Linked DNA regions of Homo sapiens: all the other regions are linked to region 1. The links come from fine-mapping of genetic effects on gene expression. A gene starts in region 1. Each other region holds a variant in brackets. All regions are shown on one strand. Distances are from middle to middle.

Region 1 (8,110 bases):
CATCTCTACAAAAATACAAAAAAAAACCCAAAAACTTAGCTGAGTGTGATGGTGTGTGCCTGTAGCCCCAGCTACTCCAGAGGCTGAGGTGGGAGGATTGTCTGAGTCCAAGAGTTCTAGGCTGCAGTGAGCGATGATCAGGTCACTGCATTCCAGCTTGGGCAAAAGAGTGAGACCCTGACTCAAAAAACAAACAAACAAGACTTATGGGACCACCCCCTGGCATGATCCCCATGAATCAAGGCACTATTGACTGTTGAAATTACAACAGATTTCTTTGACGTGGAGGAACTTGGGGAAGACAAGGAATATACATGAGAAAGAGCAGAGTCTAGTAAGTAGAAAGAATTCAGTGACAATGCAAGTTGTTCCTACATAACAGCTTGGAAGTTACCTGCTTTCAAAAGTGAACAGTTTGATCCTCAGAACAATCCATGTAGTAGATGTTATTTTTCTATTTTATTGTTTGTATTACCCACAACTGCAGCAGAAAAAGTTTCAATTATTTGGCCCAACCTGAGCCATCAGAAAGTGGCAGACTCAGGGTGGAAGCCTGCATTTAACTGCAAAGTTTTCTTCTCTCATTGGAGATATTATAGGAAATTACTTTAAAAATTTAGATAAGGGGAAAACTTTTGAAGTCTGTTTGTGAAATACTTTGAGTCGATGAAGAACTGCTACAATTTTGAAAGAAAAAGTTTGATGTTAGAAAAACATTGACAGGCAGTAAGGATCACTTAATACCATGTACCACATTCAGCAGATTCTTTAGAGAGTCCAGGTGGAATAGCTAAATTCCCATAGTCATTTAAAAATGTATACATAGATAGGAATAAATATATGAAAATGGTTGGAATAACATACACCAAACAATCAACACTGACCTCTGTGGGGGGATTTAGGCAGGGGTAGGAGTTGAAAGGTGGGACATGCAGGGGGATCTTTTGTTGCTTATTTTGTAATTTTTGAAAAAAAGTTATAAGTGATTTTTAATTTTAGGTTTAGCAGTTTTATTTTCATATTTAAGCAATTACTAAAAAAGTAATGCAAACCATTGATACAAATATTAGATATTGAAATATCTTTTAATAAAACCTAAACTATGAAAACCAAAGTTAGAAAAGCTTTAACACTTAATTTTCATGCTTCAGAATCACAGGCAACCCCCCTAGACTAAATCAATAAAGTCCCTCCCTTCCTCCCTCCCCCCTCCCTCCCTTCTGCCTCCCTTCCCCCTTCTTCCATGTCTCCCTCCCTTCCTCCCTCCCATCCTCCCTCCCATCCTCCCTCCCATCCTCCCTCCCTTCCTCCCTCCCTTCTCCCTTCCTTCTTCCCCGTCTCCCTTTCTTTCTTCCTTCCTTTTTTTTTTTTTTTTTTTTTTTTTTGCTACAAAGGGTCCTTTAGGGCAAAAGTCAAACACGAAAATTTTATGAAATTTTATGTTTGATGCAGAAAATGCACTACAATTTTATAATTTATTTCTTAATAAATACACATGGATTATTTTCCTTTCTAATTATTAAATTGTCAATGCAGGCAGATATATTTATCCTACAGTTTTAAATATCTCTTTAAACAGCTTATTTAATCTCAATTTCAAGGACATAATCTAATAGCTCATTTAATGCAGAAACAGCCAAATAAGATACTTTACAGAGTTTTTGAAGTTATCCCATGTCCTGTTCATCTTATCAACTTTATTCACCATACTGAGTCCATTGCAAATATTTAGATTTTACTTCTGAATTATCCATTTCCATTACCATTATCCAATTCAGGGCTTTATTCTTCTCACTTAAATTCAAAACCTATTTACCAAATTTGCTTCTATATTCTCTAATATGATTTAACAGTTAGAAATTTTAGTCGAAGATACTTTGTTCAATCTTTGTTTTCTTTGCTGTAATTTCACCGGGACACAGTCATTAACTCTAGATGGCCTGAATTTCTAACTGGAGCTCAGTAATTGCAATACCCTTTGACAGCCTCCACACACATATTGTTTAAGAAGTGGAGCTCTTGTCTGGGCCTTGCAGATTCCACTTGGTATCTCTTAAAGAACTTGTCATATTTATTTTTAAACCTGAATAATGATTGCCCTCTACATTTTTAAAAAATGAGGTAAGGAGGTCAAAGTGATTGTACTTGTCCAGTGCAATCCAGATCCTCATTCTATTGTGAAATATGCTATAAGGCCAGTTTTAATATTCAGCTCTAGCAATAACAGAGAAACCCAGAGGAAGAGCTGACACAGAACCCCTGGGATACAGACCCTAATCCATACCAGATTCTAGGATGCCAGAGGACTAATTTATATTCTAGGAATGTGTAATCATGTATTTACAGGGCAGTTAGTGGCCAGATAAACCTCATCGGCCTTTTCTGCTGTTAGCAATAACTTGTCAAAGAGACTTTGATTTTAAAAATCTGAAAAAAAAATCTGAATAATTGAGGTGAGTATTCAAGTTCTTTCTGTGAGAAAAAACATTGGAAGGCACATTTATCATGAAATGAGGATTTAATTTCTGCATATATGTGATTGAATAGATTTGTAATAGTTTTATATTGCCAAGAAATGGCTTTATATGTCACCACATTATTCATACTAGAAGGCAATTAGTATTTTTAGCAAATGTTAATAAGTAATATGAGCCTGAAATCATTTTATGTCAACCTCCTATATTGGATTCAAGACAATTTCATGTGCAACTTAAAACAACATGATAAAAATTATTCTGTGATGTTTAAACTTGACTGGACTCGAGATTGCACTGTGGTTTCCCTTAGTAAGCGTTATCTTATTAAAAATATGTATGTAAATTTTATGCATGAATATAATTTAAAATACCTGCTGTTACTATCCCAACTCATTTAATTATGTCCAGTGAGTTACTTTTAGAATCTTTTGAAAGTGTAATTAACAATTTATAATGTTACTGAAATCTAAGGTCTATCACTTTAAGCCATCATCACTTATCTAGCTTAAATATGGGTGAGGGTCTAGAAAGCTGCGTTTTCCTTTTCTGTGAAACATAACACATACACGATCTTGACAAAAGCTGGCTCCATAAATACATTTAATCCTTTTGGAATTGATAGCACCATCTTAGCATGCTTAAGCTTATAACAGAAAGTGTAATTCTCTGACAGCAAAGGCAGAGATGAAGTGGGCAGGCAAATCTTACGTATTATCTGTTTTTGGCAAAACCGTAACATTCTCATTACGTTTCCTCTCCAAGCAAAAGAATAATTAAGGTATCTTGTAAATAGTATCATATCTTCAGAAAAACTTTTGTATTTTTAGTTTTTTTTTTTTTAAGTCCTTAAAATGTTGCCCTACTAGTTAGTATATTAAGATACACCTTACAGACCTTTTCAATGCTTGGTCAGTTTGAAGACTCCAGAGAGGTGATGAATTTCAGATGAGCATTTCTTCTTTTCTGGGAGAATGGAGGTTGTGGCCTTGCCTATTCATTAGAGACTGCCTGGTCCGTGGTCACTTTGAGGCAACTGTGGCCTCAGACTCTCATCTGTCCTCTTACTCCACTCAGCTATATTTGGTAACTGAGCTCATGTTTCAGCAGACTGCCACGATCAGGAATTCCAGCAGCGGGCTGGGAAGCACCCCCAGGACCGAGGGCTGGGTTCTTAGAAATAAAGCCACTTAACATAGAAGGAACTATATTTATGGATCTGATAAACGTAGGATTTAAACACATTCTTCTATACTTTGGACTTGTAGCTGGAAATCACCACCTGGACCTTTAACATGTTCTTAATCAATTTAAAGTACAGTATGTGACTCCAAGTAGAAAAAGTGATAATCCAAATGGAAGCTCTTCTTACTCTGATCTTCTGTTCTGTGCATTTAAATTTTGGTCATGTGCTAGATTACCCTAAAATAGTAAATTCAGTAACTGAAAATTTAGCCACCTGTCAAATTGAGTGGAAAGTCCCATTGTTCTCTTATTTCATATTGCTAATTAAAAATTGATATATGACTATGGTATGTATTAAAGGCCTTGTCTATAATAGTATTAAATAAGTATGAACACACAGGGACTGGATCTTATCCACATTGCAACATTGAGTTCTTAGCTCAATGCCTAGGACATCATGAGCATCTCTTAAATATTTGTCAAAGAAATAAATGAATGTTGAATGAATAATATTCAGGAAAAGTATCAACCCTCTTACAGTTGCAAAAAATGTTTCACAATCATTTAATATTTTGATCTTTCAAATGACAAATAGATATAGCAAGAGTTTAATATTTTGATCTTTTAAATAACAAACATAGATAGCAAGAAGAGAAAGCTTTTCTGTTTAAAGGTCAGGTAGCAGAATCAAATATAAGGGGGGCAAAAAGAGCAACACAAAAGCTCCCAGTTAACTTGGAAATGGGGTGCTGAGTCTTCCTTTGTCTGGGTAAGACCATCACATTTGATTCAGTTTAATATCTAAATATTTTTTCTTTTCTGATGTTAGAAAATTTGTGAAGGTCTGCTATTGTATTTTCTTTATAGGCCAAACTGGTCCTTTAGAAATGGTCCTTTCTGTGAGTGGATACTTCTGTGGGTCATTTCATCTATTATATTAATTAAGAAGTGATTTTAAAATTTATACTTACGGCTGGGCGTGGTGGCTTATGCCTGTAATTGCAGTACTTTGGGAGGCCGAGGTGGGTGGATCATGAGGTCAGGAGATTGAGACCATCCTGGCTAACACAGTGAAACCCCCTCTCTACTAAAAATACAAAAAATTAGCTGGGCGTGGTGGCGGGTGCCTGTAGTCCCAGCCACTTGGGAGGCTGAGGCAGGAGAATGGTGTGAACCCGGGAGGCGGAGCTTGCAGTGAGCCGAGATCCCATCACTGCACTCCAGCCTGGGTGACAGAGCGAGACTCCTTCTTAAAAAAAATAAAAATAAAAATAAAAAAATAAAATTTATACTTACAAGGAAATATAACTCTGATTGATTGTCTTAGTTTGTGTCATTATAACAAAATGCCACAGACTGGGTAATTTACAAAGAACAGAAATTGATTTCTCATAGTTCTGGAGGCTGGGAAGTCTAAGATCAAGGTGCCAGCAGGTTTGTTGTCTGGTGAAGTTCCTGTCTCTGCTTCCACAGTGATGCCTTGAGCACTGTGTCCTCACATGGCAGAAGGTGGAAGGGCAAGAGGGGGTCAAACTTCCTCCATCAAGCCCTAAGGGCATCAAATCCCATTCATGAGGAGTCCTCCTGAATCACCTTCTAAACGTTACACCTCCTGATACTGTTGCATAGGGGATTAGGAATCAACAAAAATTTTGAAGGGGACAAAAACCTTCAAACCATAGCATTGCTTAAACACATATTTATATCTGCTTTTTCCTAAAACCACAAGATAATAGTAAAAACTGAAAAGGGCAGAAATTGGGAGGGAAGACAATAGAAGATATCAGAAATGAACAAAATTGTTGGAAAGAGATAAATATAAGTATGCATGTAACTAAATTACAAAGCTTAAATGCCTGCAGGAGGAGATACAGAAAAGAAGCAAGTGATTCACCCCATGGAGTCTCAGAAAGGCTTGGGAATAGGAAGCAGTGAACCCATCTTTAGAAATAATTTTAATTGGCAACTCTGATTTTTGCCTCTGCCTTCTGGTGAACTGTGAGTCTCATGGTGAATTCCAGAGGCAATCATGTTGGACTACTGGCCAGACGAGGCCTCTCCCACATTTCTTTGGATTGCTTGGTTCCTAAATCCTGGTATAACACCAGTGAAGTGATGAAGCCATAAGAAGAAAAAAGAAAAAAAAACAGCTTGTGGTCCTGAGAGAGGCTTCAAAGATGGATATGACTTTACTCAAAAGGACACAGAAATGTGACCTTTTTGTGTGTGTATTGCAAATAGTGCAGCAAACCAAGCTTGTTTTAAAAATCTTATAAGAAGTTCTTTTCCTTAGAAAATTGGCATCAAAAAAATTTAGAAAGTTTGATCAACACTCTTAAGTTAGTATAGCAAGGTCCAGTTGATATTAAGGATGAGATTAGTGTGTGGACAGTAATATCATTTCTCATGCACTTTCATATTTTCCACCAGAGCCCATTTCTGTGTGCACGAAGGTTGGGAAAGGGAGTCTGTGGCTCCTTCATGGGGCTCCAGTTCAGCTTTCAAATGATTACTTCTTCTTATAGAAATTCCTGCTCTTTTGAAGCACTTATATTTGCATCAACCATCCTCCATCCCACTTTTTAAAATTAAGACTTTGGATCTAGTTGGGCTCTTGGTTCTCTTCTTCACTCCACACCCTGCCATTATTCTGGGTGACTCAGCACCCATTTGTCTATTCTATATGTTGGCATATTGGTTTTGGACCTGCTTTTCTCTATGAATCTTCATCTCTGTTCCTCTTACAGATCACACAAACAGACCTCCTCCACCTCCAAAATCAGATATAACTTATCTACTGCTTCATAACAAATTACTGCAAAAATTAATGTCTTAAAACAATATATATTTGTTATTTCACACAGTTTCTATGTGTCAGGAATCCATTAGTCTTAGCTGGGTAATTCCAGATCAGGGTATCATGAGATAGTACTGAAGATGTTGCCCCAGCTTCTTTCAGGTGGAAGCATGGCTGGGGCTGGAAAATCTGCTTCCAAGGCAGCTCACTCACGTGCCTGGAAAGTTAGTCCTGTTATTGGCTGGAACCCTGTTGACTTCTCTGTGTCACTGCCTGAGTTTCCTAGCTTCATGGCAGCTGGATTGTGCCACAATGTCTTTTTTTTTAAAGTGGAGTTTTGCTCTTGTTGCTGGAGTGCAGTGGCATGACCTCAGCTCACTGCAACCTCCACCTCCTGGGTTCAAGTGATTCTCCTGCCTCAGCCTCCCAAGTAGCTGGGATTACAGGTGCCCACCACCACGCCCAGATATTTTTTTGTATTTTTAGTAGAGATGGGGTTTCACCATGTTGGCCAGGCTGGTCACAAACTCCTGACCTCAGGTGATCCACCCACCTCAGCCTCCCATAGTTTTGGGATTACAGGTGTGAGCCACCGCGCCCGGCCCCATTATATCTTTTATGATCCAGCCTTGGAGGTCATATTTCGTCTTTCCCGCAGTATCCTTTAGTTATACAAATTGGCAGTATCCACTGTGGGAGGAGACTGCATAGAGGCGTAAAAACCAGTTGGCAAGACAATGCATTGGTGGTCATCTTGGCAGTTGGCTACCACACCTCTATTCCCTTTAACCCATCAGTCCTATAGCCACATTGGGGCATGCTCTGTTTTCACAACTGCACGTTCAAACATGTTATTTGACTGTAAACTTTCTTCCTCTAGCTCTCTCATACACTGATTTTTCTTCTTCACCAGAATTTCCAGGCTGTAGATCACTCTGTTTTGAGATTATCTATCAGTCTGCCTCCCAGGTTCAGGTCAATCGAGGATACTGGTTTACAAACTTTGTTTTAGGAGATACAAACTCTTGGGCAGCCAATAGAAAAAGTAAAGGTATTCAAAGTTTCCTTGATGAAAGGGGTGTGCAAAGGAATGCAGCAGACTTGCTCATTCATCCCCCTTGGACGTTTTCTTTTTCTTACGATCCAGGAAGTTTGAAAATCCTAAGTTTCAAGAAACAAGTCTACTTACTCCCTTTTCACTTTTATTCCTCTCTTCATTCCCAGCGTCAACCACCAGGAAACAAGGATCACGGAGCATGTGAGAAAATGGTAATTGAGAAGGCTGATCAAGGAACACACTAAAATTGGAGGCATGAAACACTTGCAGAATTGTCCCAATGGTCCATCTGGGGATCCTGGGAACAAGTGTCTTTCAAGCCACGACCAGTCTTTCTACTTCTTCCTCATACTTTGTATCTGGCTTGTGTACATGTCACAGAATCAGGTATGGCCCCAAAGACTTGTCTGATTAAACTGGTATATCTATCTGTACGTAGCAGGGAACTCCAGATTTGTCCCTCATGAGCTCGATTTTATGAACTGTGATTAAATCTGCATAAATGTAGCCTGAGCCTGTGGGTGATCTTTTGGTCACATGTTTCTGCTACTTGGGATGTTTGCTAACTTGTGCATATGCACAAAAATGAAGAGAGAA
Region 2 (8,110 bases), 350 kb before region 1:
GACCATTGATCATCTGTAAAACAACCTGTATTTGACTTTTAAGGCCAAAATTTCTAAGGAAAAAAATGTCTGTACACACATGGGAAAAGCTAGTAATTATGCTGGCTAAAAGAAAAAGTTACTCTGTGAGATGCTCATATATGAAGTCCTCTCAGATGTTGCTATCTCACTTCTCATTTTCCTATCAATAATTAGCTATGTGTGACTTTTCTCCCTTTACACTGCAATGTGGTTTCTTCTGTTTTTCCTAAATGGCTAAAATTATGAAAACTAATTTATTAGTCCTAAAAAGTAAACTTGACATTTTTTGTAAAGTTTAACAGTAAATAAAGAGTTAATATTACCAAAAACAACTGAGGCAGGGAAAAGGGCAATTCCAGTGCAAAGTCTACTACCCACTGATATCTGTGATACATAAAATATTCTAAACACAACATGTAGGTTTCTTGATATCCACACCTAGAAAGCATTAGAGGGAATTAAGAGAAATTGTAGCCGATTAACTCATCTAAAAGCCCACAAAGCAGAATAAATCTAATTACCATGGCTTAAGGCAAATAATACCTCTTGCAAAATAACCAAAAATTCAAGCTTAAAGAGCAACTACACTCTTGTAGGCACTACTAACTTTGTGGATGGTTCTTTCCTTTTGAGACAGGGTCTCACTCTGTTGCCCAGGCTGGAGTGTGCAGTGGCATAGTCACGGCTCACTGCAGCCTTGACTTCCTGGGCTCAAGCAATCCTCCTGCCTCAGCCTCCCGAGTAGCTGGCACTACAGGTGTGAGTTACTGCACCCGGCTAATTTTTGTAGAGATAGTCTAGCTATGTTGCCCAGGCTTGTGTTTTTGTTTGTTTCTTTTCTTTTCTTTTCATTCTACCTTCTTTCCCAGCTCTCTCAATGAATTTAACAAATACTGATTGAGCTTTTACTACATGTTGGGTGCCAGAAATCTAGTAGTGATCAAAACAGACACAGCACTTGCCTTCATGAAGCCACATGAAGCCAGCAAGTACAGTGTGGCCTAAAACAGAAGAATGTTTAACTGCATGAAGGCAGGGTGCTTTGTATTGCTGGGCTTGGTGTATATTTCTTTGCTATCTAGTTTAATATATTGAGCTTTACATCTGTGCCAGCCTTGCATGTCCATATACCTTTGGCAGGCATTTCTAGTCAGGTGGCATGGGGCAAGGGGTGTGCTACGTTTTAAGTCCCTCATTTCTCCAGCCTGTCCAGGTAGTGTCTACGTCTCCAACTCACTCAGGAAGGCAGGAGACTTCCAGATTCACTCCACTGGTATCAAGAGTTAGGTTCTGGTGAGAGAGCTGGCAGAAGCTTCAGAGGACCTTGCGTCTTAGCCTCCTCTTTTTTTCCTGTCCTCAACAGCAAGTTGTTGCCTCTAATTTTCAGAAAATCGCAGCACATTTCCAGGAGACCTGAAATGCGGTGGACTGCTTCAACATTAGATTATTTTGGCAGACAGGGATAGTATTTAGTGTAACGTCACCTATATGCTTATCAAATAGGGGTAAGGGAGTCATAATTATTTTAATGTCTAATATTAACGGTTCTTTAATAAATTACTTATTAAAGTTCCAAGGTATAAGTCTTTTAATAGAAACAGGTTTCAGCCAGGCGTGGGGCTTATGCCTGTAATCCCAGCACTTTGGGAGGCCAAGGAGGGTGGATCACTTGAGGTCAGGAGTTCGAGACCAGCCTGGCCAGCATGGTGAAACCCCGTCTCTATTAAAAATACAAAAATTAGCTGGGCGAGGTGGTGCTCGCCTGTAGTCCCAACTACTAGGGAGGCCGAAGCATGAGAATTGCTTGAACCCGGGAGGCAGAGGTTGCAGTGAGCCGAGATTGCGCCATTGCACTCCAGCCTGGGTGAAACAGCCAGACTCCGTCTCAAAAACAAAACAAAACAAAAAACAGGTTTGGAATGAATGCAAAAAATCTACGAGAGACTGGCCAGTTGTACTATTAAGTTATCAAACAGTTTTATCCTGCCTCTCTCTTCCATTTTATATATTTAAGTCACTTTTAATTTATGGGGGTATGGAGGAGAGACATATTCTGGAGATGGAGAAAATAAAGGTAAGCCAGACTGTGGGTCCACAGGCTCTGCAGCAGGGAATAAATGTTGGTGCAATTGGCAGGTTAGAGACACATGGGAGGAAGGGAAGAGGATGTAAAGAGACAAAGACAAGAAGGGAGACTGTAGGAAGCTGTGTGTGTGCTGCTGGCCTGGGAGACGGCACCCACTGACCTCCTCTGGCCTCTCAGTCACACTTGGGCCAGATTAATTCATTCTGCAAACTTTTCTTGCCTGCCCATGGAATGCCAGGTACTGAGCTAGGGTTCGCAGACACATGCTAAGCAGCAGTAAAAAGAGCTTATTTTGTATAATACTCAGCTACTACTGAGCTAAAACTAGGAGAGCATATTAGAAATGACAGACTTAGGCTGGGCGCGGTGGCTCATGCCTGTAATTCCAGCATTTTGGGAGGCCGAGGCGGGCGGATCACCTGAGGTCAGGAATTCAAGACCAGCCTTACCAACATGGAGAAACCCCGTCTCCACTAAAAATAAAAAAATTAGCCAGGTGTGGTGGTGCACGCCTGTAATCCTAGCTACTCAGGAGGCTGAGGCAGGAGAATAGCTTGAACCTGGGAGGTGGAGGTGGTGAGCCAAGATCGCACCATTGCACTCCAGCCTGGGCAACAAAAGCAAAACTCCATCTCAAAAAAAAAAAAAAAAAAAAAAAAAAAAGAAATGACAGACTTACAAATTATATAAGTGAGAAAAGGAGACTGACTTTCCCTACAGTATACCGCATTTTTTCCAGGCTTTTCAAACAGGTTTGCAATGTGAACAATCGTTATCTTCTAGAGGACTTTTATGAAGGATTTTAGTAGTGCAGGCCTGGACATACCATATTAAAAACAAACCATTTTAGAGTCAGGGAAATGTTTCCCTCTTATCTTTTAAATTCTTGGTGGGGAGTAGGGGCTGAAGGGGGAGCATTCATTCCTTCCAGGAGCCAGGTTGCAGAAGAAAGCACTCTCACACAGGAGCAGGAGGGCTGAGGCCTCGCGAGCTACCCCCACGCTTGGTTCTGGCAGATCACTTACATTTCAGGACCTAGGCAGATGAAGTTTCCTGGCTATATGCTAAGACAAAACTTTTCCTGCTTAAAATCAGATCTTTCATTTTTTAGTATTGAGTATAAGGGAGGATTAAAGGAGTTTATTGCTTTAAAAATTAAGGAAATACACTGAAAAACTGGATAGGAGTTTATTCATTGTATTTTATGACACCAAAGATGAGCAAATGCATTCGTAAGTATACATAATAAAATAAATATAGCCTGGCATCTCTTTTAATGGAGGTAGCTTGGGGGTGAGAAGAGGGAATGGGGAAGATAAGCTGGGGGCCAGCTCTGAATTCTTTATGAGCCCCCTGATGCAGCCAGCCACACGTGGTGTGAATCTCAATAGTGCCAGTTCTTCTTTCCAAGGGTCAGTGTTTTTTTTTTTTTGCTTTAAAAATGGGGATAATAATACCTGTAATGAGATTTCTTGTAAAGTTTAAGTGAGGTTATAAATGTAAAAGTCTAATGTCAAATCTGGCTACCAAGAATTCAAATTTTCTTTCACTTTCCATCAATAATGATAAAACGTGAATATTAAGCATGGTTTGGATTGAAAACCTTCTCAGGGTCTCAAAGTCTAGTCGAGAATTCAATTCAGACTTTAAAAAGCAGACATTCAGTTCTCTCCAGATTTGTGAATGAATGCATTGTTACTAAAGAAGTTTCAGTGCCAAAATATACACTGTCTCTTCCTTTCTCCTTTTTCTTCTGCAGCTAAGTCGGCCAGAGCATTCTAGAAATCACCTTAAAAACGCATCCCTCTTCTCCTACTGGAGTTTATACAATGACAAAAATCTGATCTGGCTTTTTCAAAAAGCAAACAACAAAACATCCAAACAACATAACCCTGAGTCTTTAACAGAAAGCTGGTGCTTGCACCAGGGGCGTGCAGACGTCTGGAACGCATTACAATCAGCTCCCTAAGGGGCAGCTTATCTCTTCCTCTGATGCTATCGGTTTGCCAAGGAAAGTTAAAGACAAAAGTCAACTGTTGCACCCAGTTGGAATGTGAACATGTGGGAGAACCTGAAATATACTAAGACTAATTTATGTTCCGATGGGAGTGGCTCTCATGGTAAGGACTGAAGCAGTA[T/C]ATCCTGCTTTTTTAACGAATTTTTTAACGAAAAAAATTCTCACAGCCTGCAGGAAGAGCTACAAAATAACCCCCTCTCATCTTTACTGACTGTAGTTAGTACTCTCGTGTTGCATTTTAGGGAAAGTTCATTTGTGTCTGCAGTGGACTTCGAAGTTAATCATACCACAAAACTGTAGAGAATGAACATCTTGAAATTATTTCAGAAATAAGAGCTCCAGGTAGCCTTTGAGATTGGTAAAGTTTAGAAATAAAGTATACTTACAAAGCTGCATCTTATGACGTTGCAAAAGACTGATTTAGGATCATTATTTGGTGTGAAATACATTTTGCCAATGTAAGCCTTTCCTTTCAACTGTTTAAGGCATAGAATACTAGTACATTCTACATTTAATGTTTGAATTCTACCAGTTTTAGAGCTCAGAACTCAAATTAGCATCGTTCTAAGTTTGACAATAACCCTCTTTTTGCTTTTAATAGTGTCTCCCTTCATGTACTGAGTGTGCCTACGTTTTCCTCGAATTGTTTTCTCATCAGTGGTGGTGTGAGAAGCCTTCTTTTAGGAGAAAAAACACAGAACACCACCAAGTAGATCTGTGTCTAAGATGGCCAGTGCATTCGGCACACTCTCTGGGCTGACAGGCACTGAACAATGGCTCTTGCTCAATAGGCCTGGTTTCCAGTCACTGACAACAACGATCAGTACCTTCAATCTCTAAATTACACAAATTTACAGCTTTGATTTTTAGTCTTAGAAGCCATCAAGGACAGGCCCCAGGACAAAACAAAGTGGCTGGCTCCCATCTGCTGAGTAAGCAGAAGGGACAGTGGAGGAGTTCCTCTCAGTTTGCTTCACTTTCACTTTGCCCAGGGGTGGGGTGGGGTGGGGTGGGGTGGGACGGGGGTAGGGTTGCCGGAGGAGGCTAACTCAGTCCTCAGTCACCACCTGAGGACCACTCTCCAGGAACTTAGCACCCCCTGGGCTCAGTTTTCTTAGAGGTTAAATGAGTAGATTAGGCTAAATTCTGGCTCTAAAATTGAGTAACTATTACAGGGAAGTAAAAAATAATTCTGAATAATACTGATTGGGAAATAGAGTGTCAGAATTAGTTCTACAGCTAATTAGCTCTCTCTTAATATGCCTGGGACTTAGTTTCTTCCTTTTTTTTTCTTTTTTAGAAAAGGAATATTCATTGTGAGAAACTGAAGTATCAGAAAGTATAAGAGTATAACTGGATTGTTTGTAATACAAAGGATAAGTGCTTGAGGTGATGGATACCCCATTTACCCTGATGTGATTATTACGCATTGCATGTCCATATCCAAATAGCCCATATACACACCTATGTACCCACAAAAATTAAAGATAAAATATTAATTAAAAAATAAAGTGAAAGTAGTACGATAATAAAGTAAATGTAAAGAATTTCCCACATAACCACCAATCCTCATACAATTCCACTCCACAGGGCAAAACACCAATAAAATCTTGGTGCTATCTTTCCAGAACCTTTACTATACAAATATAAATACTTACAACACCCATATGTTTACATGTTTGGGTTTTTGTTCACAAAAGTTGGATGAAGCATATGCACATTTTCCCTCAGTGATCTTGTATCTTTCAACGATGTATCATGGGTATCCTTCCATGTTGGTACATGAAGGTTTATTTCATGCTTTTGAATGGCCTCATAGTATTCCATAGTATAAACCATTCTTTATTAATGATAGACATGCTCTCTTCAAGTACTCATTAGTGCAAATAGTGTAGCAATAAAGCTGCCTGTACAACTAATTTGTACTGTATACTTGTTTTGAGTTTTCTGTGGCAAACATGTCTAGAAATGAGATTATTGGGTCAAAGGATATGTGAATTTGACATTTTAATGGGTATAAATTGCCCTCAAAAAAGTTCTTAGGACTTTATCTGAAAACAGAGGAAAGAATAGATGATCCTTTTCTTTTTTCAACTGAGCTTCCAATTCAATTAAGAAGCCTTAAAAGCTGGAATGGCAGATGGGAGCAGCTTGCAATTCCAGTCCCCTTTCAACCAGCCCACTAATTTCAGGCCTTTTCTTTTTTAGCAAATATCAAAATTCTGTTTTGCTTTGGTCTCAATATTGTCAAATTAACATTTTTTCATGGTAATATTGCTAACCGTAAGCGAATTGCTTATTTCTAGTAGTGGGTAAGAAATGGATGTCCTGGTACCCACTGGATGCCATGGACATGTACCCAGTGATGGTGATGCTGACACCACCAGTGTGGGTACCATACCCACACTTTGAGAGCCTCAGCTTTTCAGAAAGCCCTTTAATTCTTCGGAAGAAGCCTGCAGTTAGAGGACTCCTATCTTCCTCTGGGTAGACTGTGATTTACATGTATTTGAATGGTAATCAGTCACCTTAATTAACATAGCTTTTCTGTTACATCTCACTACCATGACATGCAGGCTGTTTAACAGGTCACCTGTAAAGAGGAAACTGCAAAATTCCACATGGGCTTCCTGGAGTTCCTCTTACAGACCATACCTACTCTCCCTCGCATAACGGGTGTTTAAAATTCATTTAAGGCAACTAGAAATAATTCCATGCCGTTCTCATCTTATAAAAGGAACTCTTTGTTGATCAGATGTTATTAGTGTTGAAATTGATTCCTTATGTATTATTTAAGGTCTTAGGTTTACAATAATCACCAAGTACCTATAGCTGCTTAAATTACCCATATCAAACGGACATATTTAACTTTCAGTTGTCCACGTTATAAAAGGAAACATGAGAAAACTTGAGACTTCCCCTTGACTGTATGTAGTGGATCTATATAGTACTTCCAATCTATTTTCTGTTCTAGATCTTTTATGTAAGAATGAAAATAGTAAAGCGTGCAGTGGGCTTAGGGTTGAGCAAAGGGACAAGTCAATATTTGTACATGCATGGTTGAATGCATATTAGAGAAGAGGACTTGGTATTGAAATGACATTCAGTTAAGGGACAGAAGAGTAGCAAAAAGAGGTATCCTAGAACAGCTACTTGCCATCTCAGATTATTGCAAGAGGAAGCCTCACTGATTGAGACCACATTAATTTGAAATCTGTGATACCTCTGAGATTTTCACTAACAACTAAAAAGGGGGCTTGTCAAATAAATCAGTAGTATAACAATTGGCAAAAGTGCTGCTTAAGACAAACGACTTTCAAGCCCTTGGGAAGCATTCATTACATTACTATTTAAAACCGTGGCTTTACTTCCCACTGGTACTTTCTTAGTCTTGACTAGCTGAGTTCTTTGTATGTATAAGTCTTCCTTTTTACAAGAGGTTTTATGATTTAGGAATCTCTTAAACTCTAACAACCTGTCTCGTGAGTACAGTTGTCCCTCGGTATTTGAGGGGGACTGGTTCCAGGAACCCTTCGGATACCAAAATCCACACATGCTCAAGTCCCTGATAAAAAAATGTCCTAGCATTTGCACATCACCTACATACATCCTCCTGTATATTTTAAATCATCTCTAGATTACTTATAATACCTAATGTAAAGGCTATATAAATAGCTGTCATGCTATATTGCTTTTTTTCTTGTATTATTTCTATTGTTGTATTACTGTTTTTGTTTTGTTTTTCCAAATATTTTTGATCTGTGGTTGGTTAAATCCATGAATGTGGAACCCAGGGATCCAGAGGGCCAACTATTATCTAAGACAGATGATGCTATTGGAAAAGAAGAAAGGTGTTAGTAAGGGTCCTAAAATTCCTTAAAGGACCTAGAACAATTTCTCCAATGATATAGACAGGTAGGAAATATTTTGTTCGATTTCTGACCGTATCCCTTGATAGAAAGCACATTTTCATGTTTTCCATGGCA
Region 3 (8,110 bases), 300 kb before region 1:
GGCTGAAGGAGAGATTCTTCATTTGTTCACATGGACCATGTCCTAGAGCTGGTGTTATTTATGGGGTGTTCAGGTGAGCAGCAGGCAGGTTCCCTGACACCCAGCGGTGCCTCTGCAAGCACGACGGGGTGTTAATCACAAAAGGAGAGACATCTTAACCCCTTTAATTACTTTACTTGGGTGTGGATTCTTAGTGATATCCTACTTTATCTGGGGGACTTGGGGGCAGGTCGTTCTCTTTGTCTTGTAAGCAATTATTTAAGATAATTTCTATCTGCACGTCTTTTAAAAAAATATTTACAGGCTGGGCGTGGTGGCTCACGCTTGTGATCCCAGCACTTTGGGAGGCCGAGGCGGGCAGATCACGAGGTCAGGAGATCGAGCCCATCCTGGCTAACGTGGTGAAACCCTGTCTCTACTAAAAATACAAAAAATTAGCTGGGTGTGGTGGCATGCGCCTATAATCCCAGCTACTCAGGAGGCTGAGGCAGGAAAATCGCTTGAACCCGGGAGGCAGAGGTTGCAGTGAGCCAAGATCGTGCCACTGCACTCCAGCCTGGGCAAGAGAGTGAGACTCCATCTCAGACAAACAAACAAACAAAAAAATTTTACACTTTAACAAAGAGTTATAGAGCAAACACCCAGATTGTAACCACTGCTCAGGTAAAAAAATAGAACAGAAGATTCCTGTGTGTGCCTCCCCCTCATACCCCTGGGTTTTCCCAGGGTAACCGCAATCCTGACTTGCAGAGTTATCATTTCCTTGATTTTCTTTCTAACTTTACTATTCAGTTATGCATCTCTGAGCAAGGTACTTGGTTTCTCCCTCCTTTTTCAGCTTTATATCAGTGGAATCTGACTGTATTCTTTTTGTCTGTATGCTTTTGTTCTATATTATGTGTGTAAGATTTATCATGTTGTTTCGTCTAGCTATAGTTCATTTATTTTAATTGCTGAATAATATTTAATTGAATTACTCTACCACAATTTCCTTACTTGTTCTACTGTTGATGGACTTCTGGAATATTTCCAGTTTGGGGTTATTATGAGCAGGGCTGCTATGTACATTTGGGTTACGTGTCTCTGGGTGCACGTATGTAAGCATTTCTTTGAGAAATATACTCAAGAGTGAAGTTTGCTAGGTCATAGAGTTTGCATAACTTTGAGTTTATCAAATTATGCCAAACTCTTTTCCAACGTGGTTTTTAACAATTTATACTCCCACTGGCAGTATATGAAATATCCTGTTACTTCACATCCTTGCCAGAACTTGGTATTATCAGGCTTAAATTTTTGCCAATTAAATGGGTGTGTAATGGTATCTCTGTTGTTTTAATTCATATTTTTCTTATTACTTAATGAGATTGAACATCTTTTCATGTTTATTAGCCATTTGAATTCTCTCTTTGGTGAAGTGGCTGTTCTACTTTTCACTTATTTATTTTTTATTGCCTGGTAGCTTTTAAAAATTGATTTGTACGAGTTCTTTATTTATTCCATTTGTAACCCACATATTCTGGTCCAGTGTTGTCTACATAAGTTGCAAATACTTTCCACCCTATGACTTGTCTTTTAATACTCCTTAGGGTGCCTTTTAATGATCAGAATTTTTTTATTTGAACTACTTATCAAATTTTTCCTTTATTATCTTTTTATGCCTTGTTTAATCCACCTGGAAGCAACTTTTGTATATAGCACAAGGAAGAAATTCCTTATAAAACAGAAGCATAAAAGTTAGCAAGTATTATTTATAAAAAGAGGAACTTTTAAAGCAAATGTTCTATATTTTTCTCCTTTACTACAGATATGAAGCCTGCCTCTGATAAGAGGGAAATAGATCTTCATGTACCTTTTTTAGGGACAACAAAGTATCTACCTTTGAATTCCCTTAAGAAGTAAGAATATGTAAGTGTGATAGGCCCTCATGTAAAAATCATCTCTTAGGGTACCCTATATAAGTGCATGAATACATACAGTACACAAATGCTCGTAAGTGCATGAACCATTTTTGAAAACATACATAGGAAATAGTTATAGTTGTTACCTGTGGGAATGTATTATTTACATTTTCTGCCTCAGGGAAAAGAATATAATGTTTAAGATAATTTCCATAGTAGCTTAACAGGAAAGTAGCATCAGATACACCAAAATTTATTCACATATGCTCTTTCAGGAACCCATCTATCCAACAGAAGTGCTGATTGTCAATTATTTTACACATGCTTTTCGCACACACACAAAAATCTTGGTTACTTAACAAGCACAGGAATTATTGCAATCCACAACTATACTGAATTGCCAGGTACTCAATCTTTTCTAAGCTATGGGACTTGAATTCCAAACCCTATTCCCAAATTCATTATCTGAATAAAAGGTAGCACAATTGATAAGGGATTTGCTCATAAGTTCAAGGTGAGTAGGAACAGTACGACTTAAAGAATTTGCATTAGAAATGTTTTGATGTTGAGAGACTTCGGTTACCTTTCCAATCAGCTGACTACCCTGGACAAAGCAAAGAACAAGGGTTTTCTCTTCTACGTCTGTTAAAACAAACTAAATATGGCCTGAGAAGGACTCTATACTTCTGTATTTGAGTCCTTGTGGATGAATTGCAACCTAACTTAATAGGTAAACAAGATTGACAGCCTAAAAGTTTGCATCTGTAACAGTGGTTGAGTCTTGGCCAATCCCAGCAGCCATACCTCAACCACTCACACACTGCCAAGTATTCAAACTGTGTACAAATAAGGCAAACACTGACCTGTAACCAATCCAGCTGTTTCTGTACTTCACTTCTGATTCCTGTACGTCACTTTATTATTATTATTTTTTGTCTATAAATTTGTTCTGACCACAAGGCACCCCCGGAGTCTCTCTGAATCTGCTGTGATTCTGCGGGCTGCCCGATTCATGATTCGTTCATTGCTCAATTAAACTCTTTTAAATTAAATTAAATTTGGCTGAAGATTTTCTTTTAACACTTCTTTCTGCATTTCCTACTGAACAATTTAGCTGTACAAAGAATTAACTATGAATTCTCTCACGCTTTAACAAATGAGACAGTTCAAGTTTACATGGGCAGCAATGAGTTAAGTATTATAGCAAATGAGTCAGAAAATACATATATTTTGAAAAAATTTAAAACATTTCAGCAGATACTTAATGTTTGTTTTAGTAGGATAAAAATCAGTTTACAATACGGTTCCACTTTTTAAAAATTTATATTTATGCATTAAAATTAACAGTGATTATTTCTACACAGGTAGGTTATAGTAAAGTTTTAATTTCCTCTGTGTTTTTCACTTACTTTCCAATGTTACTGCAAATCTGTATCTTTATCTATCTAAAGAGAAATAGATATTATAGTAGAAGCGGTAAGAAAATTTTACCAAATGCCTTAGTTTTAGTCATAAGAAGCTTTTTTTCTAATGTTAAAACTTTATAAGAAATGATAAATTTTACTCTATTTCCACAATTCAGAAAATGACACTTGCAAATTTTTAAGTTTGAAACCAACTTTTCAAAACAAACAAACAAAAAACCCTTTATTTTTCAACTTTTATTCCTTTACATATAATTTAAATTTCTCCTAGTGGCATTCTTATTTAGAGGAATTTACCAAACAGTATCCTTACCTTTGATATGGCAAGGCCTTTTAGATAAGAAAAAGGCTCCCCAACTGGGGAGGCACAGATAAGTGAGGTGTACTATCAAACATCTACTCATCATAGAAAGCATGCTGGAATGTACTCCACATTTCCTTACATTGCAAACCCTGAGCCTTGGCTCTATTAGTGTCGGGACAAAGCGGGTAACTGGGCAGACTTTTCATAAAAATAAGGTGGGGCTTGTTTGTGTGCAATTTTGAATGTGATACCCTTAACAAAAGTGTCTGGTTCTGATTTGATGACACTGAACTCAAGAAAAATAGCCAGATTAGGATCAGAAGGGAAGTTGCAAAATTTCCTGATTTGCTGAATATGACATTAATATACAGGGGGAAATATGCTTTGTAACGAGCAAGCGAGCAGCTGTATGGTGGTGGGGGTGGGGTTGAGGTGGTAGAAGAGGGAGCTAATATGGCAATCGGTATAACAACAAACAAAAATCTGAGCTAAATCAGCTGTGTGTTCAACTTCTCATTTGGTCTCTGATATTTTTTAAATTAACATATTTTTCTTGCAAGGTAACATATGGAATAGTTTGACCTTGCCAAGCAAACTGGCAATTCTGTGTTACCGTCACTTCTTCCAAGCCATCTCTTCAGAGTAAAGTTGAGAATATAAATTTGAAACATAAGCCCAGTTCTCACAAATCTAGTTTCTTTTTCGTAAGGCACCTGCTCTTTTCCAAGGCAAAAATGCCTCAAATTTCCTTGGGTATGAAATTATCCCAAAGTGATGTAATTGAGGGTGATCTGATAAACTCCTTTATTAGGAATTAACTCCCTGCGTGGGATGATGATGAACAGACAGATGAGTAGTTCTGTTTATACTGTTTGATTGTCACGGTGGTCTAAATATACTCAACTTTTGGATGACTCACAAAATATTGCTACATAGTATTTGGTAAAGGAGATTAGAAGTCAAAAAC[A/C]GGATGGGGTGATATAGACAGAGGGATTTCAAAGCAAGCCTATGAACATTCGAAAGCATCAGAAAATCATTTGATTGTTTCTTTTTTTCTTTGCTCATCCAACTGTGTCTCCCTCAAGCCAAGTAATTTTTCAGGAGATAAAAATGTTCAAATATTCAAAGATTGGCACAGGTCAAAATCATAAGTGACCTGACATTACTACTGTACTTAGTTATAGTTTTGAAAGGAAAGTAGAGACAACTCAATTTGGTGAGTTTCTTGGGAAATAAAACAAGTAAAATTTCTTCCTTGAAGCACTATTCATTGCTTTTGTGGAACAGGCCAGGTATTCATAATAAAGCCCAGGGTAACTGTATTCACTAGAGACAGTTCAGGCAGAACAAAATGTACTTTGCTCCTTCTAGCTAAGCTTCACATGACCTCGAATTAGGAGACAAGGAAGGTAAAATGTGTTTTCTATAACAAATTTACTATTACTATGAAAAGGTAAGTGGGTATCCATCCCCTCAATTTGATCAAACTGCATTTTTATGAGAAATTCTATGATCTCATTTCCTGCATATGAATATTTTTAAACTTCTCTTCAAGCACCTAATGGCATTGACGTTCTGTAACATTTACAGAAGATATGCCATTTGAATACTTATCAGCCACCAGTGGTTTTCATCTCATAGATGGAACCTCTTACTCATTCCACAAATATTTATTAAGCATAGGCTATGGTTCAGATCCTGGGCCAAGAGTACAGGGCCCAGCGGAGAGCCAGATGGACTCCCTTCTAGCCTGGTGTACCTTAATAACTGCCAATCGTGCAAATAATGCATGATGAGACAGCAAGATCAGTTAGCTATCACAGGACAAGTGAAACAGCCAAACTGAATGTCAGACACCCGCCAGCAGTGACTGGTGTTCTCCTTTGCACTGGGCTCTGAGAAAGCATCATCAGAAATGTAAAACGACTTCTCTCCTCCTTATGTTTGGGGGATACAACAATTATTCTCAAGAAACAATTAGGCCAGCCTGGGCAAGATGGCAGACCCTGTCTCCATAAATACTAAAAAAATTAGTTAGAGCTGGGAAGGACAGTGGGGGGCAAGGTGGGAGGTGAGGGTGGTTGATGGGTACAAAAAAATAGAAGAATGAATAAGACCCAGTATTTGACTGCACAAAAGGGTGACTATAGTCAATAGGAACTTAATTGTACATTTAAAAATAACTAAAAGCATGTAATTGGATTGTTTGTAACACAAAGGATAAATGATTCAGGGGACGGGTACCCCATTCTCCATGATTTCACATTGTGATTATTTCACATTGCATGCCTGTATCAAAACATCTCATATACCCTATAAATATATACACCTACTATGTACCCACAAACATTAAACATAAAAAAAAATAAGTACAAAAAATAGCCAGATGTGGTGGTGCTTGCCTGTGGTCACAGCTACGGGGGAGTTTGAGGGGGGAGAATTCTGTTGAGCACAGAAATGTGAGGTGGCAGTGAGCTATAATCACACAACTGCACCCCAGCCTGGGTGATAAAGCAAGGCCCTGTCTCAAAAAAAAAAAAAAAGACAATTAGGGAAAAATATAAAGCAGTTCATGATTAGCTCCCAATTAACTGTATTCACTGCAGAGACCTGTGGGGAATAGAACATTCTATATTCATTCCTTAGAGCTCATCCACATAGGAACTTTTCTCAGGAAGATTTTCACATGTTAATCATTGAACTTTTTCAGGAAGATTCTCACATGTTAATCATTGTGGTGGACAACTGGAAAACCTCAGATGCTGTAGCGTTCATATTTTGTTGACAGCAACCAATATAATACATACATTTAAAATGGCAACATATATATACTTAATTATCTTAAATCACAAATTTTCCAAACAACACCTATTATGCATTCTTGATTTTTCTATTCTTTTTTCTACTCTTCGATTTCATTTTCAAATTGCCACTCAAGAACCTTTAAATTGATTTCACAACAGTGGGTTACCAAAAACACTGACAGGAATTGTACTTTTCAAATGGTGGTAAAGCTATATATAGTGCAGACATTGTGAGATCTTGCTAAAGACTGAATGTTTGTGTGTCCCTATAATTCTTATGTTGAAATCCTAATTGCTGGCGTGATGGTTTTAGGAGGTGGGACCTTTGGGAGGTGATTAGGTCACAAGGGTGGAACTCTCATGGATGAGAGTTTTAGCCCCAGAGCTCCCGGTCCCTTCCACCGCATGAGCACACAGTGAGAGGCCAGCCTTCTATGAAGCAGGAAGCCAACCCTCACCAAACACTGAATCTGCTGGTGCTTAGATCTGGGACTTCCCAGCCTCCAGAACTAGCAGAAATACATTTCTATTACTTATAAGCCACCCAGTCTATAATGGCTGGTTTCAGCAGCCCAAACAGAGTAAGACCATAAGAAAACACACTACTATGACTACCACTACTACTAATGATCGCTAATATTCATTGAGCATTTACTATTTACTAAGCACAGGGTTAAAGATATTACATGGCAATTCTTTCAGCCTCACTTTTGGCTGATTCCCCACAGGCTGTGAGCAGTAAGACAGATGCTGAACACTCTACCCACTGAAGGAAAGGGCTAAGCCACCATACCGAGAGGCTAAAAGACGGACGTGTAGGTTATGTCCACAGAGCCAGAAATCAGTTCTGCTAGCCTGGCCACTGATAACCCCTCTAGCTAGTGAAAGAGGGGTTGAGGCAGCCAGAGGGGTGTGTGTGTGTGTGTGTGTGTGTGTGTGTGTGCGTGTGTGTGTGCGTGCATGTGTGTGTGCGTGTGCACGTACGTCTGTGCGCTGCGCGTATGTCTATGTGTGTGCGCGCGCATGCGTGTGCGCATGTGTGTTGTGTCTTCCACCCTGGGGGAGGAGAGGATTGCTTTCCCCTCACCTTCAGTGAAGTGGGAGGGCCTCAAGAGGACCCCTTAGAGGGCCTGAGTAAGTCCCTTGGAATTTCAGGCAGGTGGGAGAGGGTGACACTCTCACTGCCCGAGGACAGGCCATAGGGCATGCAGGAGTTTCGCCTCAGGCCAGGTGGGCCTGGAAGGAGCCTACCGGGTCACTATCACAGGAACTCCATCCACAGGACCATCCTGCAGGGGGAGGGAACCTAACTGAGAGGGCAGCTGGAGGAGCGGGCCTGGAGAACCCCTGGAAAAGGGGTTCCGTCGAGGCTGAGGACGGGAGGAGCCGTGCCACTGCACCTAGAGGAGAAACAGCCCCTAGAAAGCTGGGGACAGCCAGAGAGGAGGCCAACCCTGTGCCTCCCCGGTGGATACCCTAGGCAGAACGTGGCCTTCCTGGAATAGTGTGAGGGTGGGGAGAGGTTTCACCTAGGCCTAGACCCAAGTTTAGATGACTGAACCAGACAAGATTTTAATTACTATACTGAGAATGATCTGTTTCTGATGGGAAGACTTCTATCTGAAAGCTACTAGAAAGCTATGAGGTCTCTTGGGATTTCACCCAGTGCAGAGAAAGAAC
Region 4 (8,110 bases), 75 kb after region 1:
AGCCAGTACCTCAGTGGGCTGTCAGAGACTATGCTCATTTTCATCTCTAAGCTTTAGCATATGTGTTTTTACTTGATGCCATATCAGATAGGAATTGCCATTAGCTATTAACAGAGATAGGAATTAATAATGGCTTAAAAAAGATAGTTTATTTCTCTTTCATGTAAAAGAAGTCCAGAGATAGGCAGTTCAGTGTCACTGGGAACTTAGGCTCCGCTATCATCGTATTGTACCGTTCTTAGTGCATGAGTTGTATTCTTAAAGTTATGTCATGAATGCAGTTGGTGGCTGATGCTACAGCCATGATAACTGTATTCCAAAACAAAGTAGGAAGAAGAAAAAGGGCAAATTTGTACATTCATGCTGTATTTCTTCTATGGAAGGAGGCTTCATCCCAGAAATTCCACCAATTTTTGCTTACTTCTCAATGGCCAAACTTAGTAACAAAACCGCACCAAACCACAGAGAGATTAGAAAATGTGAACTTTGAATTGGACCTATTGCAGTATCCATTAGTATGGGGATTTATAAGAAAGCATTGGGTGAGAATGGATGTTGAGGAGGTAATATCAGTTTCTGCTACAGATGTTCTTCTGCTTGTCTCTATTGGCCTAAATTCTGTGTGTCCTTCAAGGCCATCCTCTTGTGGAGTCCTCCCAACTTCTCCTGCTCACATAACACTGCTTCTATGACTCCATTTGGACCCTGAATTGTAAATCACTTAGATATTTTACTGATCTGTTTCAACACTAATCCCTTGTTCTCCAATTAGATTGAAGGTTCCTTGATGTAAGAACTCTGTCTTAAATTTCATTTGTACTTCCTTAAAGCATACATTGGTGGTCTGCATAAGCAGTTGCTCAGTAGTATTTGTTAAGAAAGAGGATATTTCTTAACAAAGAGGAAAGAGGATAAAGACTTTATATGACTTTATATGGAGTGGTTAGTAGTGGGATAGAGATAAAGAGGCTATAAGTGAACAGGAGGTAATAGAAGGGCTTAGGAGAGTCTGGATAGAATGATTGGGATGCAGTGAGGTTGTATCTTAGCCCTCAATAATTGAAGGGTTCTGCTGATGGTTTCATAAATACAAGTACTGTATGTGGTCAAGAGTAGGCCTTGATAAATGTTGCTCATGTTTTGGTCAGGCATCTAAAATCATAGGACTTTTTCCTGTGAACAAGAGTAGAAGACACACAAATAATATGTGGGTTATTGTGTTATTTTTCTCTGGAAATGAGTACAGAGCTCAGTTTAAATGGTTCATATTTCTGCTATAAATCACAAAGTTTGTTTCTTTTCTTTTTTGCCTATACTTACCCAGCTATGTCTAAGTTACTTAAGATGATAATTAAATGTGTGTAGATGGAGTTTTAATTTAATTTAATCATGAGTTTTAGTTTTTAATGCTCTAAAATCTCCTTTAAAGTCAAGTAAAATAGTGAGGTTTAATCACATGAGGTTAATTGATTAACTCAATGATTGTCGTAAGTGATCAACCAGTTATTTTTGGTGTTCTTTATAACAATTTTATTGTTTCTTTAACAAGGCAAAATTTCGAAAGATTTAAGTATAGCTGTTCAAATGATGAAAAGGATTCATTCACTCCTGGAGAGATACCCAGAAATTTTGGAAGCAGAACATCATCAATATATAGCTAAATGCCTTAAATATTTAGGCTTTAATGATCTGGCAAACTCTTTGGATCCAACTCTGGTAAGAGAACTAGAATTTCTTATACTTTAAATTTTTACTCAATTTTAATATGGAAGAATAACTAATAGGTCTAATGAAGTATCTCACATATAGAGTTATCAATTGACTATGTTTACTCTGATTCTAGTTTATAAAATAATAGATATGAGATTACTTATTAATAACCTAGCTGCCAAACTTTGAAGTAAATTAAAATTAGAAAATTTGTACAGATGCTTCCTGAAAACAGAAATTAAATACTAGATGATATCCAGATGCCACTTTAAACCCTCTTGGTAACAGGAATGAATCCTATACTTAATTCTAGTGCAATCTAAAAACTGTAATGTAGTGAGATTGAAGAATGGTCTTTAATAAGGTTCCAGGTTCCAATTCCAGGATGAACTTTTTTTAACGTTAATATCTGCTATTTGACTTTTCCCAAGAATAACATTTTAGGCAGGAAAACTCTTCTTACTTAAATATTACACTATTTAAAAGCATAGTAGGCCAGGCATGGTAGCTCACGCCTGTAATCTCAGCACTTTGGAAGGTCAAGGTGAGCAGATCACTTGAGCCCAGTAGTTCAAGACCAGCCTGGGTAACATGGCAACACCCTGTCTCTACAACACACACACACACACACACACACACACACAATATTAGCCACAATTGATAGCATGTGCCTGTAGTCCCAGCTACTCAGCCAGGGCATGGGATAGGGAGTGGTGGGGCTGAGGTAGGAAGATCACTTGCACTCAGCAGTTCAAGGCTGCAGTGAGCTATGATGGCGTCACTGCACTCCAGCCTGGGTGACAGAGAAAGACCCTGTCTCAAAAAAATAAAAAAAAGTGTAGTAAAAATGCCTTGTGCATAGAATGTGCTCAGTGGATATTTAATAAATGTTTATTCAATTTTGAAGTTTAAGTTGATTTCAAATAATATATTAAAATAACAGATAGGAGATGACAAAAATAAGAAGAAATATTCGATTGACATTGGACCAGCTCGGTTTCAACTGCAATACATGGGCCATTACTTGATAAGAGATGAAAGAAAAGATCGGGATCCCAGGGTCCAGGATTTTATTCCCAACGCATGGCAGGTAATGACAACAAACATTGTACTTTTCTAATCAGTGTGACTTCAGAACTTTTCATTACTGTGTCTCTACATGTCAAATTTTGCATAAACTTCTTAATCTTGTTTAATGTCTTTCCTCTACTGTGCCTGGAGAATGTAACTAGAGTATGAGAAATCATTCATTTCTTCCCCTTCTTGGCCTTTTTATTTTCACCATCAGTGGAAGTTATACTGATACCTGTTTGTATGTGAAGGCATGCTAATGTGGCATTACTAGTTCTTACAGCTCAGTTTTGGAAACCTCTTTCTGTACTTACTCAATGACAATTGGAAAAAGTGTTTTCTAATGGAAAAATATGTTTTACTCAGTCTCCCTTTCTATTTTGCAGAAATGAAACCCTCTCTCTAGGCCAAAATGTAAAACAAAATCTCTTTTCTGAGGGAATGGCATGAGTAATCCAGGTATTTTCCTGAATCCTTCGAGTGTTCACCAGACCTAATCTTCAGGGGTTCAGGGAGTTCCCCCAAAGGTAGCATAATACAGGCACAGGAGACAGAAGGTACAAAGGATACTGTCTGTGTTTTGGTAACATGCTGTTCACTTTCTTGACACAAATGGTGCTTTGTACCCTGCAGCAGGAACTCCTGGATGTGGTAGATAAGAATGAGTCAGCAGTGATTGTTGCCCCAACGTCCTCAGGCAAAACCTATGCTTCCTACTACTGCATGGAGAAAGTGCTGAGGGAGAGCGATGTCGGGGTGGTTGTGTACGTTGCACCCGCAAAGGTAGTGTTTGAATGACTTTCATTTTTGCTTTTGTTCCTGAACATCCCCTTTAAAAAGAATGCACACGGTCACATGCTAGATCTAATTCACTGTTATTTTATTTTTGAGACAGAGTCTTGCTCTGTCACTCAGGCTGGAGTGCAGTGGCGCGATCTCGGCTCACTGCAACCTCCACCTCCCGTGTTCAAGTGATTCTCCCGCCTCAGCCTCATGAGTAGCTGGGATTATAGGCACGTGCTGCCATGCTGGGCTAATTTTTGTGTTTTTAGTAGAGACAGGGTTTCACCATGTTGGCTAGGCTGGTCTTGATCACCTCAGGTGATCCACCCACCTTGGCCTCCTGAAGTGTTGGGATTACAGGCGTGAGCCACCGTGCCCGGCCAAGAAACTATTTTTGATATTTTTATTTCATCTCATATGTTAATATTTTCATTTATAGTTACTGCAATTATACTTATTTTTAGAAAATATTTCACTATCATGAATATAAAAATGATGACTATAGTATTTTTAAGGATTAATTTTTTAAAAATTTACATTTTAAGTTGTTTCCCTTTCTTTCTTTCTCTCTCCCCTTTCCTTTTTTATTTTCCCTCCCTCCCTTGGAGTGGTATGCTATGATTATAATTATGAAGATTTATGTTTTTCTTTTAATTAATATTGTTTCAATTAAAAAATACAGCCAGGTATATATGACTTCCATTTCCAGCAATATGGCCATATAGGTCAACAGAAAAATCTCTTTGTGTAAAATACCTGAAATGCTGGATAAGAGACACCAAACATCTTTTTATATAATTATAGTTAAGCTCAGAACAATAGAAGGGGAATCCTAGGGGCTGAAAATTTTAAGAGAAGGCCACATGGGCTCTTTGCCTCTTTTAGGCAGCAAGTTGCAGGGGCTTAAATAAGAAAGGATCCCGACAAACACAGGCAGAGAGAGCACTAGGAGGATCCCAGGCAGAGCAATGGTGGTTTACCTGGAATCATGAACCAGA[T/C]ATTCAATAGAAAGTCATTCATTTGCCCATTGTCACCATATACATGATATGTAATATCTGTCTGTCTGTCTGTCTGTCTATCTATCTATCTATCTATCTATCTATCTATCTATCTATCTCATGTGTGTGTGTGTGTGTGTGTGTGTGTATGTGTGTGTGTGTTTAAAATCAAGGAGGATCAAAGAGAATACTCAGTGGTATCAGATAATTTCATTACCATCTGTATTTTTCCCTACTTCATTTCATTTTCATTGAAGTGTGTGTGTGTGTGTGTGTGTGTGTGTGTGTGTGTGTGTGTATGTGTATGGATTCGGTTGTCCTCAAGGTTTTATATGTCTCTTCTCTACTAAGTGACTAATGGTTTTTTTTCTTGTCAATCAGTCCCTTGTTGGTCAAGTGGCTGCAACTGTTGAGAATCGTTTTACTAAAACGTTGCCTGCCGGCAGAACTCTATGCGGTGCTTTTACAAGAGATTATTGTCACAATGTACTAAACTGTCAGGTATGACATATTAATTAATGAGTTTATTATCAAATTATAGAGCAGTACTTATATAACTGTTTTGCTGGGAATCTGCAAAACACAAGCCCTTATAGAAATCATTTCACTGAATTCACAAAGAAAATGAAATTGCTCTAAGGAAAATTTAAGGTTGTTCTACTCTAAAAAGTAAGAACTAGGCTCACCATCTCTAAGGATATTCACATTGTGAACTGAAATTTCAAATAGAAAGTTATGATATTTCATTATAACTTAGAGAGGGAGTCAAGTAGATTTGACAAACCCAATGCATTACTAAATGACTATCCAACCTTGTCTTTCCATTCAAAATTGCTAGGTCTTGTGAACAATATTTATACTTACATTGTGATCTGAAATTTCAAATAGAAGATTATGATATTTCAGTATAACTTAGAAAGGGATTCAAGTAGATTTAACAAACCCAATGCATTACTAAATGACTACCCAACCTTTTCTTTCCATTCAAAATTGCTAGTTCTTTTGAATGATATTTATGGATCCTCATAATAAAACCTTGTCTCAAAAAGATTGTGTGTTGATAGTGGACCCGTCGATAGGTAAATCATAGATTAAGATAGATTGTCTCCCTTATTGAATTCACAAAGTAGACATTTAAGACTAAACAAAATGTAAAACAGTCGTTACAGAGTAGAAGCTCTTTTTCATTTTCATTAATCCAAATGTTCATAAATGTAAAGACTTAAATGAAAAACGTCAAAGATGCAATATTATCTTAATGAAACTGCTATCAGCAGCAGCATATTTTCTAGGTTCCTATTACTATGCCTGATATAAAATTAATGCTCCATAAAGTTAGCTACACTAATCATTCATATTTGTAGGTACTTATTACAGTGCCGGAATGTTTTGAAATCCTGTTGCTTGCTCCTCATCGCCAAAAATGGGTGGAAAGGATCAGATATGTTATATTTGATGAGGTAGGTTTGGTGTTAGTTCTCTGGTTGATGTTCTAGTCTGCATACACCCTATAATTTGTAATTTAAAGAATATAGGGCTTTTTCAATGATGGCAGTTAAGTTGTGCGTCAGCCAGGGTACCAATGGAAAACAGATTGCATATTCACGTTAGTACAATTTTTAGAAAAGTGTTTTTACTAAGGGGCTGTTTACAAAGGTTTGTACAAGGGAAACCACAAGGTAAGTGCAGTAATCCAGAATAGTACAAGCCTTTCAACCCTGTAAGGATGAAGGGAGGGGGAAGCATTATGAACCTTAACAGAAGAGAGATTCTATAGATATGTCTCTTTGAGAAGAACAGTGACCTTGGTGAAGAAATGCAGCTGGCCAAGGTTGACCTCTTAGGGAGAGAGAGCAAAAGAATAAAGACCTTGACCTCACTGTCTTCTCTCCTTCCCATTTCTTGCCTAGGCTTCCCACTGGCCAAACCCAGTAGAAGCTAGAGGGCTAAGGAGGCTGGGTGAGCCAATTCCCAAGGTCAGACTCATTGGCCAGAGAGGAAGGTGGCGAATGGTGTAGATCTGGAAGGACATAGCTATGTTATTATCAAAATGAATGGAAAGAACTGTAAATAGAATTCAAGCTTTGTATTTTGTTGCTTCAAGGAATTTTCAACTTAAAGGAAAACTAGGTGATAAACCTATGTAGTGAATCTACTCCTTTTTTGTGTGAAGTTGAGAGTTGGTAGACATGCTGTCATTCTGCTTTCTTTGTGCTGAAAGTAGTCTGTTTCCTTTTATGCATCAGGCTGTATTGTGTGTTGCTGACTTTGAACATTCCCGTTTTAAGGGAAAACAAAACAAAACAAAAACCTTGATCTTTATGATCTAGAACCTTGGATTGTGGTCTCATCTCAAAATGCCTAAGCACAATAATGTTAAAACATGGGTAATGAGGCCGGGTGTGGTGGCTCATGCCTGTAAACCCAGTACTTTGGGAGGCTGAGGCGGGTGGATCACCTGAGGTCAGGAGTTCGAGACCAGCCTGACCAACATGGTGAAACCCCGTCTCTACTACAAATACAAAAACTATCCAGGCATGGTGGCATGCTCCCGTAATCTCAGCTATTCGGGAGACTGAGGCAGGAAAATCACTTGAACCCGGGAGGCAGAGGTTGCAGTGAGCCAAGATCACACCACTGCACTTCAGCCTGGGCAACAATAACGAAACTCCATCTCAAAACAAAAAACAAAATGTGGGTAACTTTGGTTTTCTGATTTATACATGCACAAAACTTGATTGTAAGAAGGCTTTAAAAATTGTTTATTCTAGAAAGTTCAGAGAAATTGCCTGCTGATACAAAATATAAGATTAGCATTTGGTAAAGTGGGCGATTATCTGACTAGATCAAAGTCAGAAGGGATATGAAAATATTCTTCTTTATGTATTTATTACTAGCCTTGATTAGTAAGTCTTTCCAGCTGAGACCCAATTGTCACGATGTATTCTGTTTAAGACCAAAATTTGGACCTCCTCTCTAAGTCTTAATTTGCATTATTGAACCAAAGAGGATTGATTCATTCATTCAACAGATATTAATTGAGTACCTACTCTGTGCTAGACACTGTGCTTTCTCCCTGATATGCCAGTACTGACCTTGTGGTTTAGTGAAGGGGAGAGCAATTAAATAAGTAAATGTACCAATGAAAATATAAGTAAACATTGTGATACAAACTCTGAAGAAAAAAAAATCAGTTAGTTTTCACCAAGATAATAGCAAAATGGGAAGTAAGAACAACAACTTTGGAGCAGGTACTCAGGGAAGGTGTTTCTGAGGCAATGACCTTCAGCTGGGCTTTGCAGGGATAAGCAGGAATGGTCAGCTAAGAGGTGGATGAGGATTTTAAGTAGCAGGGTCGTATATGTGAAGGCCCTCAGGTGGAACACGTGTGTTCAAGGTATGAAAAGAAGGCCAGTATGTTGGGAGCAGAGTGCATGGCGGGGAAAGTGGCCTGAGATGGGGTTGGAAAGGTGGGAAGAAGCCAGACCATGCAGGAAGTTACACTTCCAGTTAAGCAGCTTGTGGTTTACTGTAAATGCATTGGGAGG

Which allele goes with the higher level. Positions count from the first base shown, and alleles are read on the strand shown. Sizes are in standard deviations (SD) of each study's normalised expression. Not every link is listed here.
In carriers of allele T in region 4, the expression in macrophages after interferon gamma of the gene that starts at base 3,514 in region 1 tends to be lower than with C alone (small effect, 0.29 SD a copy in Alasoo 2018).

Evidence for each region.
Region 2: its variant is fine-mapped to the expression of PALLD in whole blood (TOPMed, PIP above 0.99).
Region 3: its variant is fine-mapped to the expression of PALLD in whole blood (TOPMed, PIP above 0.99).
Region 4: its variant is fine-mapped to the expression of PALLD in macrophages after interferon gamma (Alasoo 2018, PIP 0.95).

What each region holds. Positions count from the first base shown.
Region 1 is chr4:168,492,456-168,500,565 of GRCh38, reverse strand. PALLD (palladin, cytoskeletal associated protein) reads right to left here and starts at 3,514. Exons shown (of 22, transcript NM_001166108.2): 1 at 3,372-3,514. LOC107986198 (a long non-coding RNA gene) reads left to right here. Exons shown (of 4, transcript XR_001741448.3): 2 at 7,681-7,900.
Region 2 is chr4:168,845,184-168,853,293 of GRCh38, reverse strand. The region is part of intron 10 of PALLD (palladin, cytoskeletal associated protein); the gene reads right to left. LOC102723331 (a long non-coding RNA gene) reads left to right here. Exons shown (of 2, transcript XR_007058358.1): 2 at 1-8,110. Among named protein-coding and RNA genes, the nearest start is that of CBR4, 160 kb to the left of the region's middle. The variant T/C (reference allele first, on the strand shown) is at 4,246.
Region 3 is chr4:168,793,770-168,801,879 of GRCh38, reverse strand. The region is part of intron 10 of PALLD (palladin, cytoskeletal associated protein); the gene reads right to left. Among named protein-coding and RNA genes, the nearest start is that of PALLD-AS1, 150 kb to the right of the region's middle. The variant A/C (reference allele first, on the strand shown) is at 4,594.
Region 4 is chr4:168,417,214-168,425,323 of GRCh38, reverse strand. DDX60L (DExD/H-box 60 like) reads left to right here. Exons shown (of 38, transcript NM_001012967.3): 15 at 1,550-1,716; 16 at 2,654-2,800; 17 at 3,415-3,564; 18 at 4,944-5,063; 19 at 5,927-6,022. Among named protein-coding and RNA genes, the nearest start is that of DDX60L, 59 kb to the left of the region's middle. The variant T/C (reference allele first, on the strand shown) is at 4,563.